Linked DNA regions of Homo sapiens. The protein of the gene in region 1 purifies or fractionates together with the protein of each later gene. This does not show direct contact. Each region holds a gene or a part of one and is shown in the gene's direction. Other genes may lie near its edges. The genes, in order: MACROH2A2, PDCD11, CEBPZ and GLYR1.

Region 1 (7,931 bases):
AATCTTAATAAATGCAAGTGGGCTCCATTTCTTGGCTTTGAGGTAATGAAAAATTAATTACCATACTTTACAAGTAATAGATTCCACTCACAGCACTCCTTTAGAAGTAAATATATCATAAATAGTTACTATTATACCAATGGTTGGTGGATTGGGCAGCCTGTCGTCCATAAATCTTTTTTCAACAGACATGTTATTTCTTCTGGGGGAACAAACAGATTTGTTTTAGATCAGAGAGTCAACTGACAGATGGCCTTTGTAAAAACACACCATTTGTATAAATAAATTATAGTTTCACTATGGTATTCTGCATTTGTGGATTTGGAAAATCAATGCCCCCATTCTCCAGACTGGGCCTAAACTGTAAAGAGCAATTTTGTTTAGGTGTGAGGTCACATTGCACAGATCTGCCAACACAGATGCTAAAGTCCAAACTCTCTGGATACTTGCTGCCACTTCTCATCACAATTGTCACAAAGAACTCTGCCTGGAGGTAACAGGATGATCTCCCAGAAAGCTCCGTAACCGATCAGAGCAAGTTACCAACTGGCACACTCCCCTTAGCTCTGGGCTCTGTTTCCATTAAACGTAATGATACCACGTGCCTTATTTTCCTAACCACAACTTTGCATAATTGGGACTGACAGTGTATTTGTCTTAAAAAGCTGAAACACTTCATTTTCTTTTACAATATAGTTCATCAGTTAAACGCTAAACATTCGGTAGATTTCTTTAAAATCCAAACCAGCCCTAACTCTGAGCACACTGGAATCTCAGTCATTACTCATCTTACAAGGTATACACATGTAACATATGCATCAAATATTTGATTCATATATAAATGTACATATCTAAATATGCATCTATACACACACATACCTACTCATGCAAATCCCCTTTCCCAGAACCAAAGGGTCAAGACTTAGTATCAAAAAAGACATAGTTTGTCACTGTTTTTAAGAACCAGGACTAGTAAAATGTTTCTTTTGCTAGGAGACCAAGACATTCATTTTAGCCAGAAATTATAAGCATAGTCTTTGTTGGCCTAATGATTGCCTGCGTGTCCTTTTTTTTTTAAGGATATTATTCCCCCTCCACACATGATTAAGATCCTAAAGTCATCAGTCGTGATCAAGGAAATAAAAGTTTAACACCAATCATGTTCACTATTCAAAATATAAAAACAGGAAAGACTTTGTAAGTTTCCAGCTTAAACAAAAATTTATGTGTCAAATTGTCCAGTATTTTCCTAGCTACAACGTACTTTTGGACGCTGTGTTTATTCTTTCACAGGGTGGGATACTGTTAGCCTGGTGCTTTGTCTGCATTCATAACCTCAAGCTCCCACATTGTTATTTAGAGTTATACCAGTTGGTGTCTTGATAAAATTAATACAGTGTCTAGAGTTCCTAACTTACATCCAAAGAAGTGCATAAACCAATGATTTCCATCTGTTTCTATGACACTCCCAGGGAATCTCAGGTTACTTCAAAGGAGATCAGAAATTCCCAAATAAAATTAATTTAGATCTACAAATCTTACGCATATACTTACATATGCCAGATATAAATATATACCTACATGCACATAGGTAAATTCTGGAAGATGCAAAGTCAGGAAATTACTAAGGTAATTGCATATTAAGATCCTAGGAGGGTAAAATGATCACAAATTATAATATGTATCGTAAACTGATTAGAACTAATCATGAAAAATAAAAGTCCACTCAGTTTACACAAAATCACAAATTTGGATCAAGAAAAAGGGTTTGGGGGGTAAATCAATGAAGCTATTTTTGAAGTAGATGATTTTGTGGATGAATTACTAGCAACCCAATAGGATACAAATCTGGTTGGATGACTGATTCATTTGATTCTTTTTTTTTTTTCATCTCTAAATTATGCTACATGCCTCTCTCTAAATGGAGAAGTGCTTCATCCTGCATCTCAATAAAATTATTAAAGACATGTTTGCTGTAATGGAGTCAACTCACAATCAATACCTGTATTCATAATATTATGCACACATACAGGTCAAGGGTTAAGAAAATGTTTTCAGTGCAACTGTAATCAACCAACCCTCCTGTAATTAGGCTGTTTGCTGACTCCTTAGGGACATTTATTGGGAGGGGCCCAAGGGCCCCTCTTAGACTCAGATCATGTGACTGAGTGCAAAATTCCTTTGCTTAAAACAAATGCACTTCTCCACCTTCAGATTAAGGCAGTGATTAAGAGCATGGATCTGCCACTTCCTAACTCTATAACTGTGGGAAAGTTTCTCATCCACTCCCTGCCTCAGTCTGTAAAAAGGAGAAAATAGTGCTTGCCCCATACAAGTGTTGAAAGGATTAAATAAGTTAGGATAAAGTGCTTAGTACAGTGCACATAGTAAACATTCAATAAGTGTAAGCTCTTATCATTCTTTATTATTCAACTTGTCAGAGGTTCCCCGAGCTAGAGACCACTGCGGAACTCTAGATTACTTATCAACTTATGATCATGTTGACTTTTTAAAATGTATTTTAATTTTATATAATATTATATGATACTATCTCAGTGTTAAATTTTTATGTGTTAAATGTTCGGTATTAAACACACATAATTCAACTAGATCTGCATATTAAGTGGCATATTTGTCCCCTATACATCCTGAAAAGTTTGGAATTGGCGGAAACTGCATTGACTGGGTATCTGGACATGCATTGGAGGATCTCCCACTAATGTCCTGCGAGGCCATGGCTGAGTCATTTCACCCTTCCAAATACCAGATTTCTTCCTATAGCAAAGGTTTCCACTAGGTGAACTCTAAGAACCCTTTTATCCTAAGAATCAGAGTATTTTGAAGCTGACCTCTTCCTTGATTTTCTGAGTTGTGACAGCATCATCTGTCTGAAGAAACCAACCAGTATGAAATGGGAGAATCCTAACCAGTAAATTTACTAGATCCAGCCTCTCTCAGGATAGCACATAACAAAATGCTAGAATGAACTGTTATATAAAATTCACATAAAAATGACCACATATGCCACTTTTATTGGGAAATTACAAGGAGAATGTGAATCTAATATCTACTGATGAATTATTCAACTATATTTCAGTCAGCCTGGCTGACTGGATGACAGAGTATGAGTATTTTTCAAGCACTCATAGAAAACTCCTGAACTCTCTTGAATGTTGGCTTGATGGTTATTTCTGGTGAAGAATGGACACCTGAAGGTATAAGAAGAGAGACCCTTTCTTTAGGAATGGGAAAGGACATCATTATGGGATGCCCCAGGGGATCATTTGAAACCCTTTAAATATACATCTTGGGGAAAGAAGACTTTATCCTGACTGGATATCTGACCTGGAAAATACCTTCCAAGACAAAGAACAGTGAGGTCATACACAGAGGGCGTGAAAGGCTTAGGAAAAGAGTAAAGGAAGCCCCAAGAAACAGAGACTGTTGAGTCCAGGGGAGTTTGAGAAGCCATAGGAGACTGAAATAGAGGCTTATGCATATGTTGATGATATATGCGTGATTTGGAGGAAGTCAGAGAGAAACATGGCTGATTTCTCAGCAAATACACTTTAAAATGCACATGTTCTAAACCTAACCCGCTATCTATAAACGCCAGCAATAGCCATGATTAACTAACTAGTAGAGACGCAGAGGGTGGTAGGCATGAGTTCTTCCCACTCAGGCACTGGGAGGCTTTCAGTCACTCCAAAGTCCCCACTGCCTAAATAGTTACAAGTTTGTAGTAGCAAATATACACAATATTACCAAATGTAACAGCTTTAAAAATCAGCCATTTGGCCAAGGCTGGAGAATTCTGTTTGCACCGGTTTCTCTTTTTGGAAGGGATCAAAATGTTGCCTCTCACAGTCCTTTGACTGTAGGAGAAATCAGAGGAAACCTGGATGGTCCACAGCAAGTTAGTATTTCCCACTGAAATAAACACATTCTTTTGACTCCCCTCCAGCCATGGAGCCCTGGCCAACAACTCACAATACAAAGCCGAGACTGGCTTCCACTAGGAACACAGCAACTGCTAATCCCCATTATCACACCCGACAGTGTCCACCACACCCCCATAAAGATGCATTTTCTAGTAACTAATAAAAACTGGTCCTGAAGACAATAGCCTCGCGCTCATCTAAATACCCGTTGGGATATTGCAAATTAACACCTTGTAAAGCAACCCAATTAAAAATTATGCCCATACACACAGTCTCACCCACCAAAACATACATCTGCCTCTCCAAATATTATGCAACGCTGGATTCTAAATCGGTCTTAATTTCTAAAAAGCCTACAGGCACGGATATAAATTCTCAGCTCTCGTGGCTGTGGCCGCCCTATGCACTCTTCCCAGTGGTGGACACAAACGTTAATGTACTTGTTATTATTTAAGGACACAAAAATATAGAAGGTGGCATTTTTCGCTTTCCCCTTCGAAGACTCTCCCCAGAGCTGCCAGATGAACGCCCACGCCACCTTCTCCCACCAAAGGTGGATCCAGCTAACAGGAGACTGGATCGCGACCATAGCGCGTTTGTGCCCAGTTCTGGGGAAAGCCTCATGTTAGCGAGTGGCCCTCGGCTCGTCTCGCAGATCGGCCAAGTACGCGGAGGCCGCGCGGTTTCACCATTAATACTCCTGAAGGACAATAGCTCATCAAGCCCCACCGAAAGCCCCGGACCCGTCGCGGAGCCTGGGCTGGCGGGGGATGAGGCTGAGCAACTCCTCCTAGAGGTGGTTATGTGGAGAAGGAGCAATCCCTTCTCCCTCCTCCTCCTCCCCCCGCTACTATCCGCGGCCCAGAGAACTGCCGCTTGCCGCCATTGACACGCACAGATAGAACCCAAAGAAAGGCAAAGAGTCCTGCCCGGCACCGGCGCCGCGTGGGCCAAACCTGCGCCCGTGGAGGGGCGCGCAGAGGGCACCGGGCGCCGGGAGCAGGCGGCGCAGCACCAGGTGAGCCCGCCATGGCGATGGCATTATTGTTTAGGGTGCTCCGGGGTCTGGAAACAAAACGCGCCGCCGGGGCAGTGCAGGGGCCGGAGAGAACCACCTCTGCCTCTCCCCCGAGCCCCTGCGGGCGCACCCTCGATAGCCGACCCACCCTCTGCAAAAACAAATTCTTAAATCCAGCTGCCCAACTTGCTTCCTTGGGCGATAAAGGGGGGGCTGCTAAAGAAGTGGTCAAATTCCTGCGGCCAGCGAGGGGCCGGGGGCGTCGAGGGTACTGAGAGGGGAAGGAGGAGGGATGCGAGGTTCAGCAGCGGGCCCCAGGCGAGGCTGGACCCGGAGGAAGCGGAGGTCTCCTGGGAATGCGGAGTTTCGGGCGCAGGAGCGGGAGGACGGAGGCGCCCGGCCGCCGATGGGCACGGGGCGATGGGTGGGGGGCTGCGCAGGGCCCGAGGGAGCCCGGGGAGGGCCGCTCGGGGGCCTCTGAAGGTGCCCGGGCAGGGCGCCGGCGGCTCCAGGCTGACAATGGAGGGGGCGCGGAGCAGCCGGGCGGAGGTTAGGGACCCGAGTCCGGGGGCGGGCCGCGCCGGGGAAGGTCAGGTCGGGGACGCCGGGTGGCGGGGCGAGGGCTGGGGGTTGCTGCGCGGACACCCGGGCGCCGCGGGCGGGCGTGCGCCCCGGGGCCGGCGCGGAAGAGGGCGCGAGGCCGGGCACTCCCCTTCGGTTCCCTTTCCGGGGCGCCCGGTGCCGACGCGCGCTGCGCTTTCACCGGGAAATGGCGGCCCGGCCGTGGCTCGCCTGGGCAGTCTGGCTCCCGCTTTGCGCGGGAAAAAATAATAATAATAAAAATATCGAAAAAGGGAATAAAAGTAAACTGGCTGCGGCGCAGGAAAGGGCTCTGCCGGGCGCCGGACGCCGTGCGTATCGCTCGCGGGGCGCGGCGGTTGGGGACCAGCCCTGCCTCCCCCGGCTCCCAGCCTCCAGCCCCGGCGCACCTCAGCCCCAGCCCGGCCAGCCCCCCGGATCGCCCGTGGGTGTCCTCCCCCGCCTTTCCTTGGGGGGGCGCCCTCAGTTCTTGCCCTCTTTGTTCCTTACAACAATGGCCAAAGGGGCATTGGTTCCCCAAGGGCCAAACGAGCTTCCTCCAGGAGTTTCCCGTCGCGTGCAGTGGACCACCGTGGGCCTGACTGAGGCCTGGTCCTTGCCAGGGTTTTTTGGCAACGGCCCTGGATGAGTGAAGGGATGAAAGGCGCGAGAAGAAATGGGCTGAGAAACCAAAGTGCGGGGCCCTGAGTGTTTGAGGGGACGCGATGGGAACCGTGGCTCCGCTGCCCTGATTTTAAGGGCAGTTACCCTGTCACAGCCACGCTGGAACTGAGGTGTCCTTCCAGCTTCTGTCCACCTCAGAGGAATTCAAAACAAGGGCCCAGTTCTAAGCCCCACAGACCCCAGGATCCCCTAGGGGCCATTAGTCCACCGCGGCAAATGGTTTCCTCACTTTGCTCATTTGTGTTTGTTTTGAAATCCAATTGTCACCTCACTGGGCTGCACAGTTGCTACTGAAACGGTTCAATAGGTGAGAGAAAAAGAAAACATTATTAAGAGCGAGAACGTGTCTTCGTGTGTGTTGTTTTGAACCACAAACTAAGCTACACATAATTCTCAATCCGTTTTAACACACTTTTTATTTTCAAACTAAATGTTAAGAGCTCCAAGATTTGGAAACATACTGGTGATTTTTAGAATTGTTTTAGCCTAAAATTACATATAAATAAATAGAGGCACTGCCCGGCGGAAAAGTTTATCTTGAGTCGCATAATTCACATCTTCATAACCCCTCTTTCCTGTAGCCAAATTTCCTTTTAAAACATGCCCAGTTCTCCTCTTCTCTGGTTTTTCCTATCCTACCACAGTTACACCTCACCTGGATCCATTAATTGTCAGACTTTACACATTATTAGTGGTTTCCTCTATATCAAAACTGCGTAAAAGAATTTACCTCCTTGAATCCGGAGTGTCCCTGTGATTCTGACCCTACTCCCTCACCATTCCATCTTCTGTCTGGTTCCCAGGATTTTTAAAGCGCCTCTGGTCTGCCATTTCCCAGTGGGTGGGACACCCTGCTAGCTATTGTCTGAGACAACCACATCTGTTTTCACTGCCTCCTGCCAGCAGAACAGGAGGTGAGTCCTGTCTTAGGCAACTTTAAATGAAAGGTATCTGTAACTTGTTACCGGGGAGGGATGTGCAAAAATTCAGCCAACTTTCTTAAGAATGTTTTTCAACCTTAAGAAATAACCTCCAAGTTAGATGCAGTCTTGGTAAATGGAAAGTATATTGCACAGAGATTAACAAAGAACTTGTGGTTAGAGATCATTCAACAAACACTTATTGAGCACCAAGTCTTTTGTTGTTTGTTTTGTTGTTGTTTTGAGATGGGGGTCTCGCTATATTGCTCAGACTGGTCTCGAAATCCTGGGTTCAAGGGGTCCTCCCATCTCAGCCTCCTGAGTATACACCAATTCTTAAACACCTCTAGATAGGGAAAGAAATGAAATATAAGGAAGTCATTGGGCCCTTCTCTCATAAAGCTTACAACCCCAAGCCTAGGAGATAAAATATACATGCAGGTAAAACAAGGTAAAAAGTGATTTTGGCAAGCTAGTGGGAAAACAGGTACTTTCATATACTGCTGACTGGTGTGTAAATTGATATAACCAATTGGAAGAGCAGTTTGGCACTATAAAATTAATAATGCACACATTCTGTGACTCACCATTCCATTTCTCAGTATGTCACCCAAAGAAGCAGGCATCCGTGAGCTCAGCATGTATAAGGATGTTCATTGCAATTTTGGTCATTCTGAAGTAGAAAACAGCCTAACAGCCATCAACAGGGAATGGCTAAATAAACTCTGGTGCATCTGTCTTCTGGAATATTAGGCAGCAGTTCAAAAGAATGAAGCAGATCTATACATA
Region 2 (7,146 bases), about 33 Mb from region 1:
CATAAATACTTTAGGCTGTGGGCCCTGTGGTCTCTGTCCTAATTGTTCAACGCTGCTGTTATGGCATGAAAGCAGCCATAGACAGTACGTAAATGAACAGATGGCTGTATTCCAATACAACTTCTATTTACAAAAACAGGCACTAGGCACAGTTGACTGACCTGTGTTCTGGACTTTCCCTGACCTTGCTGAAATTCTGTGATGATAAAGAGCAGTTTTTTAGTGTGAAGAATTACTTAACCAGGCAATCAAAGTACTGTTTTTATGGTACATGATAAGTGTTGAGTCCTCTCTATGGGCTGTAAGGTCTCATTGGCTCAGACCTGTTGTCCCTGGCTTATCCTCAATCACTTGGTACTTTGCAGCTCAGCCATCTCTCTGATTCTAAGAACGTCTTCAATCCTGAGGCCTTCAAGCCAGGGAACACTCACAAGTGTAGAATTATTGACTACAGCCAAATGGATGAACTGGCCTTGCTCTCTCTACGAACGTAAGTCTGTCATTAACAGGTAGGGGTGTAGAGATGTGCACCTGTACATGTTCATATTCCATTTCTCCTGGCTGTGCTTGGGAAGGGTTTTCTTTCTTGCCAGCATGCCTGTGGTAGCCCTGAATTTTAGGCAACCTCTGCCCTAGTTTATTTAATTCTGTGTTTTCTCCTTGTCCTAGGTCTATTATTGAAGCTCAGTACCTTAGATATCATGACATCGAACCTGGGGCAGTGGTAAAGGTAAGACCTCAAGCATATAATTAGGTACTGCCTCACCATCAGGCGTTCTTTAGTTCACGCACAGGTGACTGTCAGCCCGTTAGTCCTCATGTTAACACATTGAATGTCATGTTCCTTGCTTCTGCCTGCTGACTAGAATTTCTTTCTCTTTCTTTGGGTAACTCATAGTTAATTTCAAGGTAAGATCTTACTAGCACCACCCAGCTACACAAAGGCAGTAGATCATAAATCCTGAGATTTGGGATTTGATGGTGGTTAGTAGACCTGATCAAAAGTTAGTCCTGTGATTATTGATCTACCTGGGATATTAGTGAGAAGCCAGTTCCAGGTACCTGTCCTGTCCGACCATTTGGCTCTAATCGAGCAGCTCCCTTTATATGTAGAGTTTATTCCTTAGGAGACCTTGACATAGTCCCTTCCTTTGGGGAATGTATTTTAAGGCACACAGAAAGCACATGCTCACACAGAAAGATGTGAAGGCTCCCATAAATAAAGCTGACAGAATAATCCAGCTCAGTGTGGGGTGTGTGCTTCACCCATGTGCCATCTGGAATAACAGGCACAGTTAGCCCAGGAAGTTGGCTGTGAAGGGGAGGTATGACATGCCTTGTTGTAAGAGGTGGGGGAAAGGCCATTCTTGAGACATTGTGGCAGCTTATCTTTGGATTCTCTAGGGCACAGTGCTAACCATAAAGTCATATGGGATGCTGGTGAAGGTGGGCGAGCAGATGAGGGGCCTGGTACCTCCCATGCACCTGGCTGACATCCTGATGAAGAATCCGGAGAAGAAGTACCACATCGGGGATGAGGTCAAGTGCCGGGTGAGCCTCCTGAAGGGTCTCTTGGGGTTTTGGCTAGATGGGAAGAAAGCAGTTCTCAACTGAAGTTTCTGCCTTTTTCCACAAAGTGAGTGTGTAATGTCTGTAGTGTGTCTTGTGCTGTACCTGGCATTGGGAAGAGAAAAGTGAGTCCCCGTTTTGTGTAGTATAATTGGGAGTTAAAATATTCATACGTGATGAGAGAGCAAGCCAGCCTGTGATCTTTTGCCATGTGGCTTGGTGCAGGTTGTGTGCTGTGGTCACACCTGAGAAAGGGGAGGTGAGGGTGGGCTGGAGCAGCCAGAATTGTTGACGTTATCAGTAGCGACTGCCACGAACAGGACTGCCACGAACAGGTATTCCGTGCCAGTTTCTATGCTAGGCATGTGACAAGCATTATTTCATTTAATCCTTGAAACAACCCTAACAATTAAGCACTATTATCTTCATTTTGCGGGTGGGGAAATTAAAGCTTCGGAAAGCCAACCGTCTTGCCCAGAGTCACACAGCTAATACATGGCAGAACAATTCAGCTCTGTATGACAATAATGTTTTCTAGATTTCTGGCAGAGGTGGAACTTGAAAGGATAGGTAGGATTTGGAAGGTTGGGGAGAGCAAAGGTTGTGTTCTAGGCACAGAAATAGCCCTGGCAAAGCTGCCAAAACATGGGTGATTTATGACAAAGGCTCGAATCCGAAGGAAAGCTTCATAGGGTTGTGAAGATCCAACATGATGATGCACACAAGAGTGCTCCACGGGCAGGCACTCAGCATGTTAGATTTTCCGGTATTCAGTTTATCTCATCGTTATTGACTCAGCAGAGGTAATGATTGCCCATTGGTGCAAAATTTTACAGTAGTGGGATCAAGGGTTAAAAATACTTTTTCTGTCTTTAAGGAGATGACCTTCTGAAGGGGTGAAAGACAGTTGCATCTCCATCTTATTTCATAGCTAATAAACGGCAGTACTAAGGTGGTAAATTGGTTCATCATTGGTTCTGTTAGACTAGATGCAAAGCCCACTAGGAAGGAGCCAAGATGGTGTAGAAGTTAGTGTAACCAAGACTCCATAGAGGTGATGTAAGATAATTAATGTTGCTTCATGGTCAGGAGAGGGTAGTTTGCAGCAATTTATGGGAGGAATTACATTTGAAATAGTGATTTGTATGCTCCAGATTGTCATACAGCAGGAAGAATCTGCCACTGAGATGATTAGAGGAAAAGCTATAGCAGGTTCTTGGGGAATGGCCCCGTGGCTTTTGGGTTTAAGAGGTTGCAGAGACCAGCTCAGTGGCTCTCATGATAACAGATAACTTGATGACAGCCTGTGTCCCTCCCCTAGGTTTTGCTTTGTGACCCTGAAGCCAAGAAGCTGATGATGACCCTGAAAAAAACCCTGATTGAGTCCAAACTACCTGTCATTACCTGCTATGCCGATGCCAAGCCTGGTCTGCAGACACATGGCTTCATCATCAGGGTCAAGGACTATGGCTGCATTGTGAAGTTCTACAACAATGTGCAGGGACTGGTGCCCAAGCATGAGCTCAGTACTGAGTATATCCCTGACCCGGAGAGAGTTTTTTACACTGGCCAGGTAACCCTTCCCCTAGACAGGTCCCCTTTACCCTTGGTGACCCCACAAACACAAATATGAAGGAGCAGTAAGTAGTGGGGCTGCCTTTAGGAGGCTGAGGAAGAGAGCACATGGGGCAGTGGGTGTGAGCCGGCTAAATGGAGGAGACGGGGAACAGAACAGAGAGAAAGCCTCAGCGGGGTTCAGCAGAAGCTGGCAAGCTGATGGATCTCAGGCACGCATGGAAGAGGTCAGTCTTTACTTGTAATAAACCTGTGCCTCTCATATCGGAAATTGTTTTGAGGTCACTGTCACCACATGGGGGCAGTGCTGTAAAACTAGTAAGTCTTGGTATCACTAGGAAAAGCATTTTTTTATTCCTTTAAACGACTTTAAACAGATAGATAATAATTGTACATATTTATGGGGTACAATATGATATTTCTTTTTTCTTTTCCTTTTTTTTTTTGAGACAGAGTTTCCTCTGTCACCCAGGCTGGAGTGCAATGGCGTGATCTCAGCTCACTGCAACCTCCACCTCCCAGGCTCAAGTGATTCTCGTGCTTCAGCCACCCAAGTAGCTGGGACTACAGGCATGTGCCGGCATACCCGGCTAATTTTTGTATTTTTAGTAGAGATGGGATTTTGCCATGTTGGCCAGGCTGGTCTCGAACTCCCTGGCTTCAAGTGATCAGCCTGCCTTGGCCTTTCAAAGTGCTGGAATTACAGGCCTGAGCCACTAAGCCTGGCCACCATGTGATATTTCAATACATGCTTACAATGTGTAACGATCAAACCAGGGTAATTAGCATCTCCATCACCTCAAAAAGAAAAATAATTTTTAAGACTTGGATTGTACAAAAAAAGTTACTTATGTCTTCCATTTATCCCAAAGGCTGCCCTGGGGGATTGTGTAGCTCTCAGTGCATTTCTTCTTTTCACTGCCTCCTGATCTGATCCAAAGGCTCGGTAGATCTCCCAAGTCCTCTGCAGCAGTAGTGGAGGGCACGTTGCAGGGCCTGCAAGGCTTGCTGGGAGGAGTTGGCCAAGCCTGTGTGGTTTCTTGCCAGGTGGTGAAGGTTGTCGTATTGAACTGTGAGCCATCCAAAGAGAGGATGCTCTTATCCTTCAAGCTGTCGAGTGATCCAGAGCCAAAGAAAGAGCCTGCAGGACACAGTCAGAAGAAAGGAAAAGCCATTAACATTGGGCAGGTACGTGGACTTCTCTGGACAAGCTATTTTATGTTACAGTGGCAGAGAGCAGGGAACCACTAACACATGGCATATTGGAACCCACGAAGCGGAAAGATAGAGGTAGCTAGATAAGATTTTGGGGCTAGAGGGGTTCATACGCATTCCTTCCTGTGTGTCAGAACAAATGGAAGCTGTCCCTGAAAGTCCTGTTACAGTGAGGCTTTTCAGCAGTGGGCTGCTGACCTCTTTCCTCTCGGGTCCCTAGGGCCAGCCTGCAGTTCTGGCTTTCCTGGGGCTCCGTGGAGGGACTTGAGAGAGGAGTGCGATGGGTCCACCCATGAGTCCTGGTGAATGTGCACGTACATGCATGCTGGGTGGTTGGGGTGGTGGGTGGGGTTTGGAAGAAAGCTGCCTCTTAGAGATCCTTGGTGCCGGAGTTTAATGCCTCCAAGCCCTGCCTAATCCAGACCAGGTTGTTCTCTGTTCATGACAAGTGCTATTTTTGTCTTTCTCTTCCCTGGGTAGTTGGTAGATGTGAAGGTTTTAGAGAAGACCAAAGATGGGCTGGAGGTGGCTGTCCTGCCCCACAACATCCGTGCTTTCCTCCCCACATCTCATCTGTCGGACCACGTTGCCAACGGCCCATTGTTACATCATTGGCTCCAGGCAGGTGACATCCTTCACCGAGTCCTGTGTCTGAGCCAGAGCGAGGGGCGTGTTGTATCCTTGACTGGTATCTGTGGAGCAGAGGAAGGTGGGGGGCCATGGGTGCTTGGATGGGAAATTCTGGGGAAATTAGACAGCTATTTGACCTCAGAAATATCTCCACAAAACCAAACCAGTGATGAAGCCTGTGCTATGGAAAGTAAGAGCAGGCCTGAGTAAGTGCTGCCAGCAGATGCTGGTGGTCAGGGCGGAGTAGCCTGAAAGGTTGCAGAGAGGGGGACTCTCGGAGGCTGGAGAAGGAGGCCCAGTGGGGTGCTTGGGAGCACATCTAGTTTTCTTGGGGCTTTCAGTGCCTGCCCCTTGGGTTAGAACCAATAATAAGGTGGCTTCTGTCCCCCTTTCCTCTTTTTTTTTTTCCCCTATGCCTTCTCCCCGCGGGGCTATAGGCTCAGGAATATTCCCTTTGGTCTTTGCATGGGTGCTTTGAAGGAGCTTCTCACAGAATGTAAAGTTCATTCTCCTGGGAGTAAAAATGGGCAGAGGAGGGAAAATGAGTTCATCAGTGTAAAGAGGGAGTAGTAGAGGATTGTGTGATGGCTGATCCAGCTGCCAGACCAGGGGGATGAGCCATCCCTTTTTGGTGTCCTCTAGTAATCTGCAGATTAGTGAATCGGGAATGGAATAAAACCGTGATTCTCAGCTGTAGTGTGCAGTTGGGCCATGCAGATGGCTGGGCCACACCAAAGTTTCTAATTCAGTAGGTCTAGGTGGTGCTTGAGAACTTGCATTTCTCCTAAGTTTCAGGCGATGTTGATGCTGCTGGTCTGCACACTTAGAGAATCGCTGTAGCAGCAGAGATCAGCCTGCAGTTCTGTCCTTCTCTGTGGAGAAAGGAGATGGGAGAGATGGACATTTCATCTGCCCTTTCTGGAACATTCCTTGATGAAGTACCACTAGCTTCTTTGCAGGAAGCCAGCCTTGGTCTCCACAGTAGAAGGTGGCCAGGATCCCAAGAACTTCTCAGAAATCCATCCTGGAATGCTGCTCATTGGTTTTGTGAAGAGCATCAAGGACTATGGCGTGTTCATCCAGTTCCCCTCAGGTCTTAGCGGACTGGCCCCAAAAGCTGTAAGTTCAACTCCATGTACAAGGGCTTTGAGGAGAGATACAAGGTCACAGAACCTGAGGGCGGGTAGGGAGGAGTAGGATACTTTATTCCTTTTTTTTTTGAGACAGTCTTGTTCTGTCGCCCAGGCTGGCTTGCAGTGGTGTGATCTCTGCTCGCTGTAACCTCCGCCTCCTGGGCTCAAGCGATTTTCCTGCTTCTGCCTTCCAAGTAGCTGGGATTACAGGTGCCCACCAACATGCCAGGCTTTTTTTTTTTTTTTTTTTTGAGTAGTAGAGACAGAGTTTTACCATGTTGGCCAGGCTGGTCTTGAACTCCTGACCTTAAGTGATCCACCTGCCTCGGCCTCCCAAAGTGCTGCGATTACAGGTGTGAGCCACCGCACCTGGCCAAGGATACTTTACTCTTTTGAAAGATTTTCAGGGGTACCTCTTAAGGTGTGTGTGACATAAAGGCACCTGGGAGGGGTGAGTGCAGCTGAGCTTTTGGCCCATGTTCCTCTCGCCCAGCTGTGTGACCATCTGGAGGAAGGGACACCTTTCCCACTCCACACTACACATTGAAGGCCTTAGTCTCCAGTGTGAAGATGACTGCACTTGTTTTTATTCTCTCAGCACACTTAGACAGGGAAATTGATCATCCTGAGCTACTGAGTACAGGTTTTGCAGACTTCTGAGGTTTTTGAGGTGTTAAGGGACCAGAATGTCTTTGAAATTATTACCTCCCCCACCCCCATGTCATTGAGTCCTGCACTTTCAGATGGGAACAATCCCAGCAGTCCCCTAGCAGAGCCTCCTGGTGTGCCTGGCACGTCAGCCGAGGCCTATTGAGGGGATGGGACTCACCAAAGTCATGGAAGACAGCGAGCAAATGGCGTGCAGCTGATTGCTGCTGCAGATCATTCATCAGTATTTCTTCCCCTCTGTAGGCCTGTCTCCCTGGTGTTTTGCCTGGGAAAATCTCATTTGCATCCCCTGCCAGAAACATTTTAAAAATGGGAGCAGAGGGGAGGGCCCCAGAAACAAGCCCAGTGAGGGGCA
Region 3 (7,146 bases), on another chromosome or scaffold:
GGAAGGTAGTCAGTTCCTAGTTTGTTCTGAAAAATCTTTGTTTTAAATTTTTTTAATCCTGAGTTTCTAAAAACATGAAGATAATGTCAGACCTGTTCCAAGTGAGAATTATTTCTGGGCATACTTTCATGACAAATATTTGAAGCACTCTAAAGCTCCAAAAGACTTTAGACCTAGTTCATCTTCAGATTATTTCCATCTTAACGTTTCCACCTCTTTGGCCCCAAAATGGGCACCTTTTGTTGCCATTTAGGAAAGGGAGAAGTTTGGGGTTTTTTGGTTTGGTTTTTGTTTTTTTTGAGACAGGGTCTCACTATGTCACCCAGGCCAGGCTGGAGTACAGTGGGCCATTATGGCTCACTGCAGCCTCAAACTCCTGAACTCAAGCGATCCTCCCACCTCAGCCTCCCAGGTAGCCGGGACTACAGGCTCGTGCCACCAGGTATGGCTAGTTGTGTTTTTTGTAGAGACGAAATCCCACTCTGTGCACCGGCTGGTCTCGAGCTCTTGGTCTCAAGCAGCCTTTCCACCTTGGCCTCCCAAAGTGCTGGGATTATAGGCATGAGCCATTGTGCCCAGCCAAAGGAGAAGTTTTGAAGGGAGCTTTTACTTACTTATTTTTGAGTCAGGGTCTTGCTCTGTCAGGAAGGCTGGATCACAATGGCACGATCTTGGTTCACTGCAACTCCCATCTCCTGGGCTCAAGTGATCCTCCCACCTCAGTCTCCCGAATAGCTGGGACTACAGGCACACACCACCACACCTGGCTAGTTTTTTTGTTGTATTTTTTGTAAGAGATGGGGTTTCACCATTTTGCCCAGGCTGGTCTCGAACTCCTGAACTCAAATGATCCACTCGCCTCAGCCTCCCTAAGTGCTGTGATTACAGGTGTGAGCCACTGCACCTGGCCTTGAAGAAAGCTTTTGGTGTTTGGGATAAACATGTTCTCTGCTTTATTCAAGAGCAGATGCTAGCTTAAGTACCAAGACAAATTCTTGAGGGAGCTCAGAGTTTTTAATCTAGGTTGCTTGGCTAAGTAAGAATGTTGGAGATATCTGTTGAGAATATTAATGGTGGTGCTTTTAATGACCTCTTGGGCTAGGAAGAAAGCATTTGAGAAATCGTATTTTTTTTGTTATTCCTAGGTGGGAAACAGTTAAATAAATACGATCCATTCAGTAGAAACCCTCTGTTCTGTGGAGCTGAAAATACAAGTCTTTGGGAACTCAAAAAGGTAAAATAATTTCAAATTGTCTTTTATTCATTTATGCTATATATATATATATATATTTTTTTTTTTTTTGAGACAGAGTCTTCCTCTGTCACCAGGCTGGAGTGCAGTGGCATGATTGTGGCTCACTGTAACGTCCGCCTTCCGGGTTCAAGCCATTCTCCTGGCTCAGCCTCCCAAGTAGCTGGGATTACAGGCGCCCACCACCACGCCCAGCTAATTTTTGTATTTTTAGTAGAGACGGGGTTTCACCATGTTGGCCAGGATGGTCTTGATCTCCTGACCTTGTGATCCGCCTGCCTCAGCCTCCCAAAGTGCTGGGATTACAGGCATGAGCCACTGCGCCCGGCCTATGCTGTATATTTTTGCCCTTGAGGATGTAATGCCTTGAAGTTTTTGTTTTTTTATGATAATTATAAGCATTAATAAACATTAAAAGTCCACATTTGGGGGAAGATACTATGTGAAGTGTTCATTTTGTAGAAAATCTTAAGTGTGCACGTAAAATAAGGATGTCATGCATGGGTTATGACTGTTGCTTTTTGTAGGTAGATTATTGCATATAGAGTTGAGAAAATGGATAAATTTTGCTTTATTTATTAGATACCTCTGAAAAGTTTTATGATAAAATTTTTTGCAAGTAAAGTTACTTTTCTGAATTTGTAAGAGGAATTCATATTTTTAATAACCTTTCTGTGACTTTTTGTGTAAAGCCAGTAAGTATCTTATGCAGCTATTCTCAAAGTGCGGCCAGACCACTAAGAGTTCCTGATACCTTTTTAGTGAGTCGGCCAGGTCACAGCTCTTTCCATAGTAATACCAGTACATTATTTGTTTTCATCACTGTGTTGACGGTGGCACTGATACTATAAAAGAAATGATAGGTAAAACTGCTGCAGCTTATCCTGAATAAAGACAGCACCAAGCTGCATCAGAAGCCATTATATTCATCACTGCCACATATGTGCAGTTAAAAAAAAAAAAGCCAGTATGACTTAAGAATGATGACACAGGGAGAATTACTGATTTTAGTGTCTTGACCTTAAAGTAACATGTCTTTTTAGTATTTCGTGTGCATACATAGCAAGTATGCGTAACATACCTGTGCTGCCTACCTAAAGCATGAAGGTTGTCACGTGTCTCAAGGACAAGTGCTTACCAGTTGTTGCAAGCTCATCTAGCTGCTCTTTCATGAAAGACTGACAAACTGGTTATTCAGGCTTAGGTATTTGGGAGATATTTTCTTGAAAATGAATGAAACAAAAAAGCTGGCAGTATTTGTTGTCAGCAATAAAATTCAAAAATAAAGCTTTCGAGCAAAGATTAAAGTTTTAAAAATCTTGTAACCACCACCTTGAGCTTGACAGTTTCTCAATTTGTAAAACTTTTCTGATGAAATCAGTGGTTCTAACAATGTGATTGTTGTGGTAAAGTATAACGAAATGTGCCAGTGTTTGGAAGGACTGCATATGGTATTTTTCCAATGACCAATGCACAATGTTACAAATTCTTTTTTTTGAAACGAGAAGGTTCTGTCACCCATACTGGAATGCAGTGGCGCGATCTCGGCTCACTGCAACCTCTACCTCCTGAGTAGCTGGGATTACAGGAGCATGCCACCATGCCCAGCTAATTTTTTTATTTTTAGCACAGACAGTGTTTTGCCATGTTGTCCAGGCTGGTCTCGAACTCCTGACTTCAGGTGATCCACCTACCTCAGCCTCCCAAAGTGCTGGGATTACAGGCATGAGCCACTGTGCCACCTGAATGTTACAAATTCTTGAGTGAATAAATGATTGATTCAAAGTAGACCAAATAATTTTAAGTAGCAAGTACCAAAAGCCAATTGAATATGGGTTTCAGATTCCATATTACAACTAATCTTTGGTTTTGGTATAGTACTAAAGAAGAAAATTCACAGCTATGTGAAAGACTATTTTCTACACATGAGGCCAGATTGTATGTTTCAACGTGGAATACAGAAGCAGATGAAATAATCCACTCTCTTCTGTTAAGCCAGACATTAAAGAGATTTGCAAAACTGTAAAGTAATACTACTCGCTATATATTTCGTCCTGAAGCATAATTATTTTTCTTTTTTTCTTTTTTCTTTTTTTTTTTGAGGCAGAGTCTTGCTCTGTCGCCCAGGCTGGAGTGCGGTGGTGCGATCTCAGCTCACTGCAAGCTCCGCCTCCCGGGTTCACACCATCCTCCTGCCTCAGCCTCCCGAGTAGCTGAGACTACAGGCGCACACCGCCACGCCTGGCTAATTTTTTGTATTTTTAGTAGAGACGGGGTTTCACCGTGTTAGCCAGGATGGTCTCGATCTCCTGACCTCGTGATCCGCCCGCCTCGGCCTCCCAAAATGCTGGGATTACAGGCATGAGCCACCTCGCCTGGCTGCATAATTATTTTTCATAAATATGCTACTTACTAGTATGTAGTAGCTTTATGGTTTTTGTTTTTGTTTTTTGTTTTTTTTTTTTGAGACAGAGTCTTGCTCTGTTGCCTAGGCCAGAGTGCAGTGGCGCGATCTCGGCTCACTCCAAGTTCCGCCTCCCAGGTTCACACCATTCTCCTGCCTCAGCCTCCCGAGTAGCTGGGACTACAGGCACCCGCCACCACGCCCGGCTAATTTTTTGTATTTTTAGTAGAGATGGGGTTTCACCATGTTAGCCAGGATGGTCTCGATCTCCTGACCTCGTGATCCGCCCACCTCAGCCTCCCAAGGTGCTGGGATTACAGGCATGAGCCACCGCGCCTGGCCGCTTTATTGTTATTTTTAATGGACCTATAAGTATTTACAATTTTTCTGTTTATTTTTATAACATAGGTGTCTGTAGATATAAACCTGTTGAATAGAAACTGATGGAATTTTTGGTTTTTAAGTGTAGGAAATGGTCCTGAGACCAATATGTTTTGAGAATCACTTTTTTAATGTATTGGCTTAAATTTCAAATTTTTGCATTTTCATTTTTGTTGTTGTTGAAATAGGGTCTCACTCTGTCACCCAGGCTGGAGTGCAGTGGTGCCATGTCAGCTCACTGCAGCCTCGACCTCCTGGGCCCAGGCAGTCCTCCCACTTTAGCCTCCTGAGTAGCTGGGAGTACAGGCACGCGCGCACCATCACACCCTGACTATTTTTGTACTTTTTGTAGACATGGGGTTTCGCCATATTGCCCAGGCCAGTCTCAACTTCTGGGCTCAAGCAATCTGCCTGCCTGAGCCTCCCAAAGTGCTGGAATTACAGGTGTGAGCCACCACACCCAGCCCGATTTTCTTAAATAAGCTATAAATGTACTAAGAGTCGACCTTAGAAATATTGATATTATTCACATTTTTCTTTTTAGTTATCTGTGCATTTTCATCCCTCCGTGGCCCTTTTTGCAAAGACCATCCTTCAGGTGAGTCTAAAATAAATCCAAAGATGAGAAATAAGAAAAAAAGTATCATTTTAGATAATCAATAATTGGTCATACAGTGTTTTCTCTAACAGAGAGAATCTTGTACATTTTACTGCTCGTATAAAGAAGCAGTGACTTGTTTCATACAGAGTAGCAGATAACTTTTCCCACTCTGAGATGAGTGGAAGCAATAAGACATTGAAAGCCACGCAGTTATTTATTTATTACCTTCTAGCTCCTCTCCTGGAGAAATACTGCCTCACTTTCCCATTTGCTGTGTTTGCCACTTCAGGGTTTGGTTCCTGATTAATGGTTAGATGGCCTGCATTATTAATATTAGTCTATCCATCAAATCAACATTACATCCTAGAATATGTATGTATATGTATCTGTGTGTTTAATTTTTTAAGTATAATGTGCATGAGAGAGATATTTGAAGAGTCATTTATTGCATATTTGTATCTTCAATACAGTGTAATAGAAATTATCTTTTTCTTCCTTTTTCTTACTTGGATTCATAGACATAATTTGAATTAAGTTTTTAAATCCCCGCTCCACTTTTCAGGGAAACTATATTCAGTATTCAGGGGACCCACTGCAGGATTTCACTCTAATGAGATTTTTGGATCGATTTGTATACCGAAATCCAAAGCCCCATAAAGGCAAAGGTATGCTTCTATTTAGTGAATTATTTGGCTTTCATTTTTAATACATAATAAACAATATGAGCTTATAACTAGGTTTTGCATTATACTGTCATAATTTTACATTTCAGAAAACACAGATAGTGTTGTGATGCAGCCGAAAAGAAAACATTTTATTAAGGATATTCGTCATCTTCCTGGTAAGTATAAACCTTAGACAGTTGAAACTGAAAAGACAATATAAGACAAAGATGCATAAATTGTATTATTCTTTGTTCTAATTTATCAGAATAAAACCTGAGCATCAAAGACATTATCCATCTTTTTTCCCAAGAATAGGTATTCTTAAATCTACTGTATCTGACTGGGCCTTTTTTTTTTTTTTTTTAACTTTATTACAGCAAATTTGAAACATATCCAAAATAAACAAAATAGTATGATGAACCCCCTCCCCATTACCATCACCCAGCTTTGACAGTTGTCACCATTTTATCATCCGTAGCTTCATCCACAACCCCTATGTATATAATTATTATTGCTTACAATTCAGACCATCTTAAAGCTCTCTAATATCAGCTTAGCAGCACAAAAACCCACAGCTGGTTTTGTCACAGAGCATCATTTTAAACTTAATAACCTACTTCTATATTTGCTAGCCATCTTCTGGATCTGAGTCTGTTGTTGTATTCAAAGCAGACATTTCTTTGCATACCAGATCTCATCTCCCTTTTGTTCAGAGACCAGGATTAAATTAGACCTTATAGATCATTTAATTTCCAGTGACTTACTTCACAGAGGTCCAGAGATGTAAAAGGACTTACCCACAGTTAGTAAGTTAGAATTAAAAGCCAAATCTCCTTTTACTCAGGATGAGTCAGCAATTTTTATTCTGAAGAGGTAAAACTGATTTCTTGTAGTTCCTTATTTCTTAGTTTTCCTCAGTATAAAGGAAAACTCTGTTAACTTCCTGTTTATTCCCAGAATGGCACGCATTAATGGCAAGCTTGTCATTTTTTGAGCTGAAAATGACAAGTTTAAAGTGATTATTTATTAAAATAACTCTTTGAATTTTTTATTTCTCTTGAAAGTTGGGTCCTGGATGCAAATGAAGAACAGTAAGAGAACCCTGTTGTTTCACTGTAACGGCACTGACAGCTATGTACTGCCTACTTTATGCTGTAGCCAGTGAAGTTTCAAATGTTGGGGGGGTCTTCACACAGACTTTTTCAGAGATTGTCCCTTGCACTCCAGAGTCCCTTCTGTCTACCTTCCCACACAATTCTGAGATTTTTAGAATTACAGATTATGCTGTATTTTGTCTTAAGAGCTTGAGTAACATAAAGGGGATTGCTATATGAAGTTAAAATGTTTAAATTTATTTTTGTAGTGAACAGTAAGGAGTTCCTTGCAAAAGAAGAAAGCCAAATACCAGTGGATGAAGTGTTTTTCCACAGGTACTATACATAATATAGTTTCATTTGGGGAAACTGCTAAAATTTAAATTTTTAGATTTCATAAAATGCTTCATTTTATGAAATAATCTACTTCAATAATCTACTACTGTGTGTAAATAGACCATGGAACATTAGTGGGAGAAGTGGCCTTAGTTTTAAATGCTTCATTTTATGAAATCTAATCAGCATATTTTGAAAAGATCAAAGGATATGTCTGTGTTTGTTAAGAAAATTTACAAATCCGTCATTTTGCTAATCTTAATATATCTTAGTAAAACTAAAGTAAATTTGGGAGTTTTGTTAATTTAGCATATAAATTTTGTTTTATGCTTCTTTTTGGAATTTAGCCTTTAATTTCCTTTTATAATAATTTTCTTTATAGGCTTAAAATCTACCTTTAATATAGATTTTAA
Region 4 (7,146 bases), on another chromosome or scaffold:
TTTAAAGACCAAGTCTTGCTCTGTCGCCCATGCTGGAGTGCAGTAGCACGATCTGCACTCACTACAACCTCCACCTCCCGGGTTCAAGCAGTTCCTGCCGCAGCCTCCTAAGTAGCTGGGATTACAGACGTGTGCTACCACAACTGGCTAATTTTTGTGTTTTCTGGTAGAGATGGGGTTTCGCCATGTTGGCCAGGCTGGTGTCGAATTCCTGGCCTCAATCCACCTGCCTCGGTCTCCCAAGGTGCTGGGATTCAGGCATGAGCCACCGCACCGGGCCCTACATGTATGATTTTCATTTAAGAGGAAAGCAAATCAGAAGTGTGCAAGTTTTTGAAAATACCAGATTTTAATTCATTTTGATTGGAGTAATCTGAGAGTGCCTTAGTGGCGGTTCTGTATTCATAGATGAAGAGACTTTTTATAGGAAGAGTGTCAGGTCACCAGGGTAAATTGGCTGTGTTACAGGTGCAGTTATGCCAGCAGCCAGGCAGCAGCAACCCACCAGAGCAAACCTGCAAACCAGGAAGTCATGGAGGAAACCCTCTGGGCAGTCGGCATAGCCTGTGTTCTAGGGCAGAGGCCTTTAGTATTGATTTGTTTTGTTTTTTTTTTTTTTTTCCAATATAATATGTGTTCACCATTCAAAAACAAAAACTTGTCAACATTGAAACAGTTGCATTCATCCCCATCCCACAGCCACCCAGTTAGACCAGTTTCTGATGATGTGTCCCTCCAGAGATATCAGTGCGTGGTCAGTCCATTTTCCTTGTCTTTGCACGAGTGGTAGCACATAACATGCATTGCTTTTTATCTTGCTCATCTCCACGTAGCCAGATATCTTACGAGACATCCGCTTTCCTTCTCTGTAATGACCTTGCCTGTTTTCAGCTATTTACTATCACAATGTGTCATTCATTCTACTGTACATAAAAAGCAAAGTCTCCTACTTTAAATACAGCTTGAATAAGCTTGATTTTTCTGACTTCCCAGCCACAATTGGGCTGAAAGATATAGCTCCATCTAAGTCTTGGGAGGATGATAGGAAAATCAAAAGTTACAGCTTCTATCAAGGAAAGAAACAGTCACTTAAAAAACCAACAGTAGCAACAACAAAAACACTAAAGCCTTACGCACTGGAGCATTGTAGCACCTTTTAACTCACTGGTGAGCAGTACATCCTCCTGAACATCTGGGAAGGAATCATTTACCCAGTGATTATTTATTGAGGACCAGTGGTGTGCCAGGCCCGGCTGATGTGCCTCCGTGAATTAGACAGTGGTGCATTGTTGAGGCGCCAACTGAAAAGCATATTCTCATTAAAAAGACAGAGGTAGGCCAGTTGCAGTGGCTCATACCTGTAATCCCAGCACTTTGGGTGGCTGAAGTGGGCAGATTACTTGAGTTCAGGAGTTCGAGACCAACCTGGGCAACATGGTGAACCCCATCTCTATAAAAAATAAATTTAAAAAAGATGAAAGAAGTGTAACCTTTAGAGAAAAAATTGTATTCAGATAGCCAAAGTGATTTAAGTTTGGTTTGCTTTCAAGAGGTAATCCCCATAGAGCTCTGGTAAGCTGGGTTTTTTTGTTGTTACTGTTTTTGAGGTGGAGTCTCACTCTGTTGCCCAGGCTGGAGTGCAGTGGCACAATACTGGCTCACTGCAACCTCCGCCTCCTGGGTTCAAGTGTTTCTCCTGTCTCAGCCTTCCGAGTAGCTGGGATTACAGCTGCGTGCCACTACACCCAGCTAATTTTTATATTTTCAGTAGAGACGAGATTTCACCATGTTGGCCAGGCTGGTCTCAAACTCCTAACCTCAGGTGATCTGCCTGCCTCGGCCTCCCAAAGTGCTAGGATTACAGGTGTGAGCCACCGTGCCCAGCCAAGCTGGTTTTTTATGGCTGTTTTTTGATGTAACAGGATGCTTCTCCAGCAATAAGTTGATTCCTTAAATAGATTAACATTTCTTGGATTTACCATCCTATTCATACTGTCAGTTCATTTAGCCATTTTAATGTTTCGAAGATGGTTGTAAAGAGGAAAATTTTAGTATCTCAAATGCTTTAAAGTGAGTGGAATTTTGACTGTACAGTTCCTTCTAGCAGAAATCAGTAAACCTTGTAAGATGCTTCAACAAAAAATGGGGTTGATTCCTTGGCACTTCACAGACATCCTCACCTTTCTGTTCCCTCAGAATCGGGTTCCTGTGAGGCTGGGTAGTGGGAGGCAGGGATGGAGGTAGCAGGATGGCGTGGGTGGGATTAGCAAGTCTCGGAGTCTGTTGTCCCATCTCAAGGGGTTCCATAAAAATCACCTTTTTGGTCCTATATTGGGAACTTGTGTGGTTCTCAGCTTCTGACCAGAAGCTCCTAGGAAGAACTGGCTGGTCACGACTCCTTAAGCTTCATCCTTGATACTGGTTGTGTCATCTCAGACCCACGGGTTAGTATGGTAGCTTCACTGGCTTTTGGGGCTGGGTCTGACTTTGCATCTGATTGCTCTGGCCTGTCATTAGCATCCCTGTAAGGAGAGGGAACGGAGTCAGTTCAGGGATATTCTTGCCAGAAAATCTGGGGTCGAAATCTCCTTCCACTTTTCCTCCCAGCAGATTGGACTCATTGGCGCTCTCATGTTGAATTTCAAACTTTAAGATGAGTTGGTCACTGGAAAGGAGTTTGCTGGCTCACACCTGTAATCCCAGCACTTTGGGAGGCCAAGGCAGGTGGATCACTGGAGGCCAGAAGTTCAAGACCAGCCTGGCCAACACAGGGAAACCCCGTCTCTACTAGAAACATAAAAATTAGCTGGGTGTGGTGGTGCATACCTGTAGTCCCAGCAACTCGGGAGATAGAGGCAGAATTGCTTGAACCTGGGAGGTGGAGGCGGAGGTCGCAGTTAGCTAAGATCGTGCCACTGCACTTCATCCTAGGTGACAAAATGAGACTCTGTCTCAAAAAGGAAAAAAAAAAGGCCAGGTGTGGTGGCTCACGCCTGTAATCCCAGCACTTGGGAGGCTGAGGCAGGAGAATCACTTGAACCTAGGAGGCGAGGTTGCCGTGAGCCAACATCGCCCCATTGCACTCCAGCCTGGGCAACAAGAGTGAAACTCCGTCTCAAAAAAAAAAAAAAAAAAAAAAGGAATTTGCCTAACTCCTCTAGTTGGAGCTGTGCCAGGGAGACCAGCTTCTGTATCTCCATTCATCATCTCACTTAGCCATGGTGGCATGCCTGATAGTGGTTCGCTGCCTGACATCTGCAGGCCGATGATCCCAGGTCTGTGTTTTTGCACAGACCCCATTATCACAACTACCAGCAGCACACTCAAAGTCCAGGTAGCTGGTGGAGGGTTAGTAACATTATTTTTATGTGCAAAGGTTAACACTTGCTGTTAGTGAATATTCTCTAGCTTTCTATGAAGAAAACAACCTGAAGCTTGTGAGATAGCTGGGTTTCTGTATCCTTAACCTGACCTACTTTTTCTGAAGGTTATGCTGTGAAACCTGTATCACAGGCTAAAACATGTAAACTAACTGATACCTTGTAAAGCCTATAAAATTATTTTGTGCTTGGATTCTATAAGCTGCATGCCATTCAGGGAAGCCATAGAAAGCCAGCTGCAGCAGATTTGTTCAGGTTAGTGTGACAGATCAGAAACCCCAGAATTGACAGCTGACTACTTTCACTTTCATGTGTTACACATTGATGGTTGAAATTAAAAATTACATATCGGAGGTGTATGTTCTTCTACCTTTAATCTCAAGCATCTTGTTTCTATTTTTTTTTTTTTTTGAGACATCATAAAACAGCATGCCATCTTGTTTTTAAATGCCTCCTTTTGTAACTGCTGCCCTTATTCCAAACCATGTGTTCCGTGTTTTGTGTGGTTTAGTAGCCATGGTTACCATCATTTATGAACAAATATAGGCTCAGTGGCTGTGAATATCCATAGGAACCACAAATTTTAGAAGATGTTGCATTTCTTCAGCTCTGTAACATCCCTGACTCTCTGTGGATCAACAGATCATAAATCTGGTTCCCATTGTTGACAGGCAGCAGGCATTTTCCTGCATAGTAATGCTGCTATCATCTATCACATTTCCAGGTACCCTGATTCCCAGGGATCTGTGTGTGGCCATTTGTGCTGCCTGGTGAGAATGGGAAAGGGTCTCCAGATTTCTTTCTGCCCTGAGCAAGTGGCAGCGTATATGTGGTTGGGCATTGGAGGCTGATAGACGATTGTGGAAATAAATAATCTGCAACACAGTGCTTTCACTGGAGGAACTTGATTTGTGGTTGCTGCAGTGGTGGTGATGGTTGTTCTGCTTGACTTGTTTCAAGAAAATATACTTTAGACATAAGACTCTGAGATGGTTGATAGCATGTTTTGAAAGAAATGGCAAGGCCTATTGCAAAGTCCAGTTAAACCAAATGGATATTTACACCGTGCCATAGTGAGGTTGTTGATACTTTAGGGCATATGCTATATGGTTCACACCCTTTTTGTGTTTGTTTTCTGCTAGTGCCTGGATCAAAGTGGAACAGCTGAAGCCATATCATGCTCATAAAGAGGAAATGATAAAAATTAACAAGGGTAAACGATTCCAGCAAGCGGTAGATGCTGTCGAAGAGTTCCTCAGGAGAGCCAAAGGGAAAGACCAGGTGAGAGACACAATGTTCACTTTCTACCAATGCCAGACTGGTGATTTTTGCATAGCAACTAACAGATTAAATGTCACCCAAACGCAAACCTTTGTTCTTCTGAAATGCTACTGGAGAAAGCTACTTCAGTTCTAAGGTGTCAGCGTTTTGCTTATCAGTTTGAAACTCCATGCAGCTAACCTTTCTGGAGTAGGTTGTTGCTTTTAGGAAAATTGCTTGGACCCAGGAGAAATATCTCAGCATTTGAGTCTAGCACAGGCCATTTCTTCCTTTCATAGCACACAGATTAGGAGCATAGCCTCTGAAATACATATACTGCCTAGATTTAAATCCTTTCTTCTAGTTTTGGGACATAGGGAAAGTGACTTTTGATATATATATTTTTTAAATCTGCTTCTCCCAATGTCTGGGACGACAGCAGAATCTATTTCTAGGGTCATTGTGAGGAGACCACACAGAGTGCCTGTAGCAGCACATGGCACCTGTAAATGATGGTGGCGATGGCGGCAGCAGCTGTGGTGGTAGTTATCATTATTATTATTAAACTTTCAGACGTCATCCCACAATTCTTCTGATGACAAGAATCGACGTAATTCCAGTGAGGAGAGAAGTAGGCCAAACTCAGGTGATGAGAAGCGCAAACTTAGCCTGTCTGAAGGGAAGGTGAAGAAGAACATGGGAGAAGGAAAGAAGAGGGTGTCTTCAGGCTCTTCAGAGAGAGGCTCCAAATCCCCTCTGAAAAGAGCCCAAGAGCAAAGTCCCCGGAAGCGGGGTCGGCCCCCAAAGGATGAGAAGGTTTGTTTTCTCTCTGCAGCTTCCGGGATTAGTGATGTCCTTTTAGTACAAGGTAGAGTTAAGCTCTACAGTATGCTTATGTAGTATGCTTATCTATACTCTGCTCATGGAGTGGGAGCAGAATTCTGTGCTCAAGAATCCTGCAGGGCAGGTGCGGTGGCTCATGCTTTATCCCAGCAACTCAGGAGGCTGAGTCAGGAAGATGGCTTGAGCCTTGGAGCTCAAAGTTGCATTGAGCCGATTGCACCACTGCATTCTAGCCTGGGTGATGGAGTGAGACCCCGAATCTTATTTAAAAAATTAAAAAATAAAGAATCCCATAGACCAGGTGAGAGACACGGCCTGGATGCAGGTGTAAAGTAGGAGCGCGAGGCAGGAGAGCAGTCCACTTGAGCCGGTGCACAAGGGCTGGCCCTGGGAGGGGCTTAGCAAGAAAGAAGGGTAGGCATTCCAAAGATGGAGGGCACAGCCCGTGTGAGGCTCGGTGCTGGTGGAGATACTCTCGAACAGGGAGAGGATAGTGAGGAAAGCCGAGAAAAAGGAAGCTTGTCCCTGGATCGTGGAGGGCCTGAAGGTCTACTGAAGCAGCGTGGTACTAAAGCGTCTTGGAGTCAGTGGGGGCCCGGGAAGGTGACTGAGCCAGTGGCAGTGTGTGCCTCCCGTGTGTGCACCAGTAGTCACCGAGTGCAGAGGGGAAAGTCTCAGAGCCAATTAGGAGGTAAGTCTAGGCGTGCATTCATAAGGGGGTAATTGCAAATGTTGCAAGCAAAGAGGTGAGAGGCACTTCAGAGGAAGAGTTCTTAAGATTCCATAATTGGTTATATAGAGGATGAATGAGAAAAAGGAAAAGAGGATTTCCATCTTCATTCCTGGGAAAGTGGTCATCACTTTCTTAAAAGTAGAGGACTGGGGATGTAGAGGTGGCTTGTGGAGAAAGAGTACCAGTTCTGTTTGGAATGTCAAGAACTTGAGGCAAGGCCTAGACAGCCTGGGAGCTTGGTGTGACCTCAGGACTAGAAATGTAGATTTGGGAGGTGAATTTGTAAAAGGGTAGTTGAGTCCGGGCAGTGGAATGGGTTTGTTTCAGGAAGAGAGGGAGAAGAGGGAAGCGCGGAGGCCTGCATTGCCACAAGAATGCCGTGCTTGGGGCAGGAAGGAGCAGGAGGAGCTAGCAAGATGAGATAAAGCAGTGAGAGTGCCTCTCTCGCCTTCTTGCTGACAAGATTTGGGGCCGGTCTTACAAGGCCACAGAGAAGAATTTCAAAGTGAAGGGGACTGTGTCAGGAACGCGGTAGGATTGTCAACAGCAGGATAAAGAGAACAGAAGCCAGATGGCTGGCAGCAACAGTTGGGTGACGAGGCCATGATGGAACATTAGACCTTGGATCAAGGCTCAAAAATTCAGACACCAGCGAGCCCAGGCAGGTAATGGAAGCAACTGTAGCTGACTGGACCTAAGAAGCAGTGGCACGGGTGCCAGGCACCCCAGCTGACCTGCCTTGGTGCTCAGAGCAGCAGGGCTGGCCATGGTCAGGGAGTCTGGGGAGGTCATGCTCTGTCCACAGGGTTCTAGCCAGCTTCTGCCAAATTGTCTGTTTTTTCTCAAGAGAAGCTGGGAAGGCCAGTTGTGGTGTCTCATACCTGCAATCATAGCACTTTGGGAGGCTGAGGCAGGAAGATCACATGAGCC

Evidence for each region.
Region 2: the proteins of MACROH2A2 (region 1) and PDCD11 purify together in Homo sapiens (affinity purification with mass spectrometry; 2 studies listed by BioGRID and IntAct, with this or other methods). This does not show direct contact.
Region 3: the proteins of MACROH2A2 (region 1) and CEBPZ purify together in Homo sapiens (affinity purification with mass spectrometry; 2 studies listed by BioGRID and IntAct, with this or other methods). This does not show direct contact.
Region 4: the proteins of MACROH2A2 (region 1) and GLYR1 purify together in Homo sapiens (affinity purification with mass spectrometry; 2 studies listed by BioGRID and IntAct, with this or other methods). This does not show direct contact.

Annotation. Positions count from the first base shown.
Region 1 is NC_000010.11:70,048,042-70,055,972, forward strand, and holds the start of MACROH2A2 (core histone macro-H2A.2), read left to right. Parts: upstream 1-4,804; 5' UTR 4,805-4,959; intron 4,960-7,931. UniProt on the Homo sapiens protein: Variant histone H2A which replaces conventional H2A in a subset of nucleosomes where it represses transcription. Nucleosomes wrap and compact DNA into chromatin, limiting DNA accessibility to the cellular machineries which require DNA as a template.
Region 2 is NC_000010.11:103,413,601-103,420,746, forward strand, and holds part of PDCD11 (protein RRP5 homolog), read left to right. Parts: intron 1-365; coding exon 366-490; intron 491-669; coding exon 670-730; intron 731-1,404; coding exon 1,405-1,551; intron 1,552-2,890; coding exon 2,891-3,142; intron 3,143-4,191; coding exon 4,192-4,332; intron 4,333-4,839; coding exon 4,840-5,034; intron 5,035-5,937; coding exon 5,938-6,108; intron 6,109-7,146. UniProt on the Homo sapiens protein: Essential for the generation of mature 18S rRNA, specifically necessary for cleavages at sites A0, 1 and 2 of the 47S precursor. Directly interacts with U3 snoRNA. Involved in the biogenesis of rRNA.
Region 3 is NC_000002.12:37,214,473-37,221,618, reverse strand, and holds part of CEBPZ (CCAAT/enhancer-binding protein zeta), read left to right. Parts: intron 1-1,145; coding exon 1,146-1,234; intron 1,235-4,581; coding exon 4,582-4,635; intron 4,636-5,200; coding exon 5,201-5,303; intron 5,304-5,410; coding exon 5,411-5,479; exon of another isoform or gene 5,480-6,298; intron 6,299-6,666; coding exon 6,667-6,733; intron 6,734-7,146. UniProt on the Homo sapiens protein: Stimulates transcription from the HSP70 promoter.
Region 4 is NC_000016.10:4,830,289-4,837,434, reverse strand, and holds part of GLYR1 (cytokine-like nuclear factor N-PAC), read left to right. Parts: intron 1-4,522; coding exon 4,523-4,661; intron 4,662-5,213; coding exon 5,214-5,456; intron 5,457-7,146. UniProt on the Homo sapiens protein: Cytokine-like nuclear factor with chromatin gene reader activity involved in chromatin modification and regulation of gene expression. Acts as a nucleosome-destabilizing factor that is recruited to genes during transcriptional activation.